Regions from separate parts of the Homo sapiens genome. Here region 1 is linked to region 2. Evidence: fine-mapped expression QTL. A gene starts in region 2. The other region holds a variant in brackets. All regions are shown on one strand. Distances are between the middles of the regions. Region 1 overlaps SPMIP2 (sperm microtubule inner protein 2). Region 2 holds the start of RAPGEF2 (Rap guanine nucleotide exchange factor 2).

The links.
Region 1: its variant is fine-mapped to the expression of RAPGEF2 in whole blood (TOPMed, PIP above 0.99).

Annotation. Positions count from the first base shown.
Region 1 is chr4:158,927,626-158,930,527 of GRCh38, forward strand. The region is part of intron 3 of SPMIP2 (sperm microtubule inner protein 2); the gene reads right to left. Among named protein-coding and RNA genes, the nearest start is that of SPMIP2, 110 kb to the right of the region's middle. The variant C/T (reference allele first, on the strand shown) is at 1,155.
Region 2 is chr4:159,101,600-159,104,501 of GRCh38, forward strand. RAPGEF2 (Rap guanine nucleotide exchange factor 2) reads left to right here and starts at 1,480. Exons shown (of 30, transcript NM_001394067.2): 1 at 1,480-2,632. The coding sequence starts at 2,564. RefSeq lists an enhancer at 630-1,321 and silencers at 970-1,509, 1,640-1,859, 1,900-2,189, 1,938-2,232, 2,200-2,619.

The DNA.
Region 1 (2,902 bases), 170 kb before region 2:
CGCTGCACTGTGGGAGCCCCTTTCTGGGCTGGCCAAGGCCAGAGCCGGCTCCCTCAGCTTGCAGGGAGGTGTGGAGGGAGAGGCGCCAGTGGGAACCCGGGCTGCGCAAGGTGCTTGCAGGCCAGCTGGAGTTCCCGGTTAGACTGGGCTTGGTGGGCCCCGCACTCGGAGCAGCCGGCGGGCCCTGCTGGCCCCGGGCAATGAGGGGCTTAGCACCCGGGCCAGCAGCTACGGCGGGTGTACTGGGTCCCCCAGCAGTCCCAGCCCACCTGCGCTGCACTCGATTTCTCGGCGGGCCTTAGCTGCCTTCCTGTGGGGCAGGGCTCAGGACCTGCAGCCCGCCATGCCTGAGCTTCCCACCCCCTCTGTGGGCTCCTGTGCAGCCTGAACCTCCTCAATGAGCGCCGCCCCCTGCTCCACGGTGCCCAGTCCCATCGACCACCCAAGGGCTGAGGAGTGCAGGCGCAAGGCACGGGACTGGCAGGCAGCTCCACCTGCAGCACAGGTGTGGGATCCACTGGATGAAGCCAGCTGGGCTCCTGAGTCTGGTGGGGATGTGGAGAACCTTTATGTCTAGCTCAGGGATTGTAAATACACCAGTCAGCACACTGTGTCTAGCTCAGGGTTTGTGAATGCACCAGTCGACACTCTGTATCTAGCTACTCTGGTGGGGCCTTGGAGAACCTTTATGTCTAGCTCAGGGATTGTAAATACACCAATCGGCACTCTGTATCTAGCTCAAGGTTTGTAAATACACCAATCAGCACCCTGTGTCTAGCTCAGGGTTTGTGAATGCACCAATCGACACTCTGTATCTAGCTACTCTGGTGGGGCCTTGGAGAACCTTTGTGTCCACACTCTGTATCTAGCTAATCTGGTGGGGAGGTGGAGAACCTTTATGTCTAGCTCAGGGATTGTAAACGCACCAATCAGCGCCCTGTCAAAACAGACCACTCAGCTCTACCAAGCAGCAGGATGTGGGTGGGGCCAGATAAGAAAATAAATGCAGGCTGCCAGAGCCAGCAGTGGCAACCCGCTCGGGTACCCTTCCACACAGTGGAAGCTTTGTTCTTTTGCTTTTTGCAATAAATCTTGCTACTGCTCAGTCTTTGGGTCCACGCTGCTTTTATGAGCTGTAACACCGCTAAGGTCTG[C/T]GGCTTCACTCCTGAAGCCAGCGAGACCACGAGCCCACCGGGAGGAACAAACAACACCAGACGTGCTGCTTTAAGAGCTGTTAACAGTCACCGCGAAGGGCTGCAGCTTCACTCCTGAGCCAGCGAGACCACGATCCCACCGGAAGGAAGAAACTCTGAACGCATCAGAACATCAGAAGGAACAAACTCCAGACGCGCCACCTTAAGAGCTGTAACACTCACTGCGAGCGTCCGAGCGTCCGTGGCTTCATTCTTGAAGTCAGTGAGACAAAGAACCCACCAATTCCGGACACAGTATGATCTTGGCTAACTGCAGCCTCAACTTCCTGGGCTCAAGTGATCCTCCCACCTCAACCTCCTGAGTAGTTAGGACTACAGGTGCATGTCATCATGCGTGGTTACTTAAAAAAATTCTTTTTGTAGAGATGGGGCCTTGCTCTATTGCCCAGGCTGGTCCCACGCTCCTGGCCCCAAGCAGTCTTCCTGCCTTGGCCTCTCAAAGTGTTGGGATTACAGGCATAAGCCAACATACCCAGCACAATCTCTGGCATTTGATTGGATTGTTTAGTCCATTTACATTTAATGTGGTCATAGTCATTGATTTGGTAGGATTTATGTCTGTTATTTTGCTATTTGTTTTCTATAAGTCTTAAATATTTTTTGTTTCTCTATTTCTTCATGCTTGCTTTTGTGGTAGATATTTTCTATCATTTTAGCCTTGCATTTCATTTAAATAGTACACTATTTTAATTCCCTTGTTGTATCTTTTAGTATGCATTTTTGAGTTACTTTCTTAGTGGCTGGTCTGGGGATTATCATTAATATCTTATTTCAAAATAATCTAGTTAGGATTAATACCAACTTAATTTCCATCATATGAAAAACTTTGCTTCAGTATAACTCCATTTCCTCCTTCCTCCTTTGTGCTATTAGTTTTAGACAAATTACATTTTTCTAAATTATATGCCTATCAATATAATTCTATAATTATTGTTTTATGCAGTTATCTTTTAAATCACATAGGAGAAAAGAGAAGTTACAAATCAAAAATATATTAATACTGACTTTATAATATACCTATGTAGTTACCAGTGCCCTTTATTTCTTCATGTGGATTTGAGTTCATGTGTATGGTCCTTTCATTTTAGCCTGAAATATTCTCTTTAGCATTTCTTGCAGGGCAGGTCTGCTAGTGAAAAAAATTCTCAATTTTTGTATATCTGAGAATATCTTACTTTCTCTTTCATTTTCGAGGCATAAAAGCATAGTATTCCTGCATACTACAAATTTCTGCATACATAGAATTCTTGGCTGACAGTCTGTCTTTTAGCACTTTGAATATGTCATCCTCCTGCCTTCTGGCTTCCATGGTTTCTGCTGATAATTCATGTTAATCTTATTGAGGATCTCAGTCTCTCTCTCTCTCTCTCTCTCTCTCACTCGCTCTGAGTTGAAAGAGTCTTGCTCTATCACCTAGGCTGGAGTGCAGTGGTACAATCACAGCTCAGTGAAGCCTCGACTTTCCAAGCTCAAGCAATCCTCCCCACCACAGCCTCCCAAGTTGCTGGGACTACAGGTGCACACGACTTTGCCTATTTTTTGTATTTCTTATAGAGACAGGATTTCATCATGTTGCCAGGCTGGTCTCAAACTCCTGGGCTCAAGGGATCCACCCATATCAGCCTCCCAAAGTGCTGCGATTACAGGCATGAGCCTGTAATGCCTGGCTTTTTTTTTTTTTTAAGAGA
Region 2 (2,902 bases):
GGTGGAGATGTCAGTTATATTTTTTCACTTCATTGGGTTTGAATTCTTTTATCTGCCTCTCTCCTTTTTTCAGAGCTGTATTGGCACTTATTCATGTTCCTTTGCTTTCAAGGTAGTGGCCTATGTCATAGAGAATTTGATGTTGGCGCTCAACTAAGAGGTGAAAGAGAAATATAGAGAAGCAGTTCCAGCAAGAGTAATATAAAAAGGTCTACAGATACAATTTGTAACTCAGATTCCCTTTCACAAGGTTGGGCAGGGACAGTCCCTTTGCTAGGAAGTCACACAAGCTGTTTAGTGCACACAGGTGACTTAAGGAACCCCAAAATGTTAGCTGACAATCTATTCCAAGTGTTTAAACTAGATGTTGAAAATCATGTTTGAAAAGTTCAACGCAGTAGCTCATACATAAAACTCATTGTGTCTATAGATATCAAAATAAGAACTTGTGGGGGGTGGGGGCAAACAAAAATAAATCCCTGGGACCAGAACAGCAGAGTGGTCCCCGATGCTTGGGCTGACCTTAACACACCTCTACGTGGCCGGGGCAAGGAGTGGGGGGGAGCTGAGGGAATCAGCAGGAGCGGTGACATCTTGAAGGACGAGGTATTGTTTCTGCACCATGTGGGTCCGGTTTGGAAATTTGAGCATCTAGAGGAGGAGGCTTGTTCTGTCCAAGGCAAAGCCAGACCTACCAATAAATGTTTCTGATTATGTCACAGAACTTGCCATCCTGGTCTGTCGCTAAGGAGTGATCAACTTTAAATCTGGAGTGTTTGTTGGTCTAGGGGTGGTAGTGGGTCTGGTGTTGAAACCTCTCTGCCTAATTTCGTGGTCATTTTACTGTCTGAGGTGCCAGAGTGGGCTTGGAAAGCAGGGGAGGGTGCAGCAAATTACAAATAAGCAAAATAAATCCTAAGAGGATTTATCGCCACAGAAGCAACTCGGACGCAACTCTTGGGCTCAAAAAGAATGCCCAGTACAGCCCGGGCTGGTGGGCCGGTCTTTTGCCCAAGGTTAGCTTTCAGCCCCTGGGCGGCGGCGTGGCGCCAGGAGCGGGCGGGGAGCAGCGACCCGACGCGGCTGGGTCTCCTAGTAGGGCGCGTCGGGTGTGGGGAGGGGGCGCGGCGTGAGACAGTGGGGGACACTGCGTGAGGAAAGCCCTGCGCTTCTCTCCGGGGCACCAGGACTTGCGCCCCCTCTTCGGGTCCAGGCCGCGCGCGGGACCCGACAGCCCGGCCGAGGGCTCCGCGACCCACTTGCGGCCAGAGCGCTGCTCACCTGGGCGCCGCCGAAGGTGCCGCTCAGACGCGAGGGCGCGGCCGCTGGCGGGCGGGGAGCGGGGAGGCGGGACCCGGCGCGACGGGGCTGCCCCGCCCCCCGATGATGCGGCGGCCGCCGACTCGCCCCCACGCTGTCACTCATTCCTCACCATGGTTGCAGCACAAAGCAACAAGCCCCAGAGGCCGCTTCCTCCCTGAGGAGCGGCTCCGGCGGCCGGAGAAGGCGCAGGAGGAGGAAGAGGCGGAGGAAGAGGAGGGGAATCGCCGCTTCCCAAACACTCTCTCCGAGGGGGCTGTGCGCGGCTCTCGGCTTTCGGCCCTCGGACGCCCGCGCCGGGAGTCCGAACCCGGGCTGTCCGCGGCCCCCTCTTCCCCCTCCTCCGCCCCGCGCAGACGAGGAACAAAGTTGCCGAGAGCGACTGGGCCGGAGGGCTGCAGCCCGGGCCGGGTGCTCTGGCCGCGGCGGCGCCGGCGCCGGGGCAGCTCCGCTCCGGGCGCGCTGATGGGGGGAGGCGGCGGCGGCGGAGCCCACAGCGGCGGCCCGAGCAGCAGAGGCGGCGGCGGCGGCGGCTGGGCGGCCCGAGGGGATGCAGCAGCAGTCGGGAGGGACGGCCGAGCCCAGTAGACAGAGACCAGGAGCGGCGGCCGAGGCGATCGGGCTTCGCAGCGCCCGGACCTGAGCCAGACCCACCTGGTCCGTCCTCCCGACCGGCGGCCGAGGCGCCCGAGGACTGGGGACGCGGAAGATCCAAGTGATTCTCGGAGACCCCTGGGCGGCGGCTGCGCAAGCCCCTGAGAGGAGGGGGCGACCCTCAGCGCCGTGGGGGAGGAGGCTCCGCCTGCCCACAGCCCTCCCCACTGCCACTCGTACCTCCCTAAAAATAACTCGGGCCCGCTGGGGCCAGGAGGAGCCGCCACTGTCCCCCGAGTGGAGCCGGGGAGGCGTGTCGAGCCAGGGCCGGAGGAAGCCGGCGGAGCGGCGAGGAAGAGGAGGAGGAGGAGGAAGGGGAGTTCCGCCTGCGGGCCGCATCGCACGGCAGCCTAGGGGCGCCGCGACCCTCCCGGCTGCGTCCAGCCCCTCGCGCCTGTACCGCGCTCTCGGCCGCCGGGCCCAGCCGAGCCGCCCCCCCGCGGGCCCCGCGCCGCCGCCGCCGCGGTTTGGCTGATTAGTCGCGGGCGGGCGGGCGGGCGCAGCGCGCAGGGCGGAGGCAGCAGCGGCGCTGGGCCGGGAGGAGGCCGGCCAGGGTGCGGAGCGGCCCCGGCCCGCTCCCAGAGGGGAGATGGCGTCCTACGTAGATAACAGCTTCCGCCAGGCGGTGATGAAGAATCCCCCCGAAAGGACCCCCCAGGTGAGAACGCGGCGGCCGCCTGCCCTTGGCCGGATTTCTGCCTCGCAGGCTGCGTCTTCCCCTGTCCCCCCACCTCCTTCCTGACACAGTTCGCCCCGAGCACCCCACTTCTTGCATCAGGACCCCCAACTTCCAAAGGCATCCCACCTCCGAGTCTTTTACTCCGCCTATCCTGGTTTTATTTTTCCCTCTCCTTGACATTCTGCTCCTTAACTCTTCCCTCCCCATGACTGACCTTTCCCACTATGTTGCCCAGCCGAGAGAGAGAGA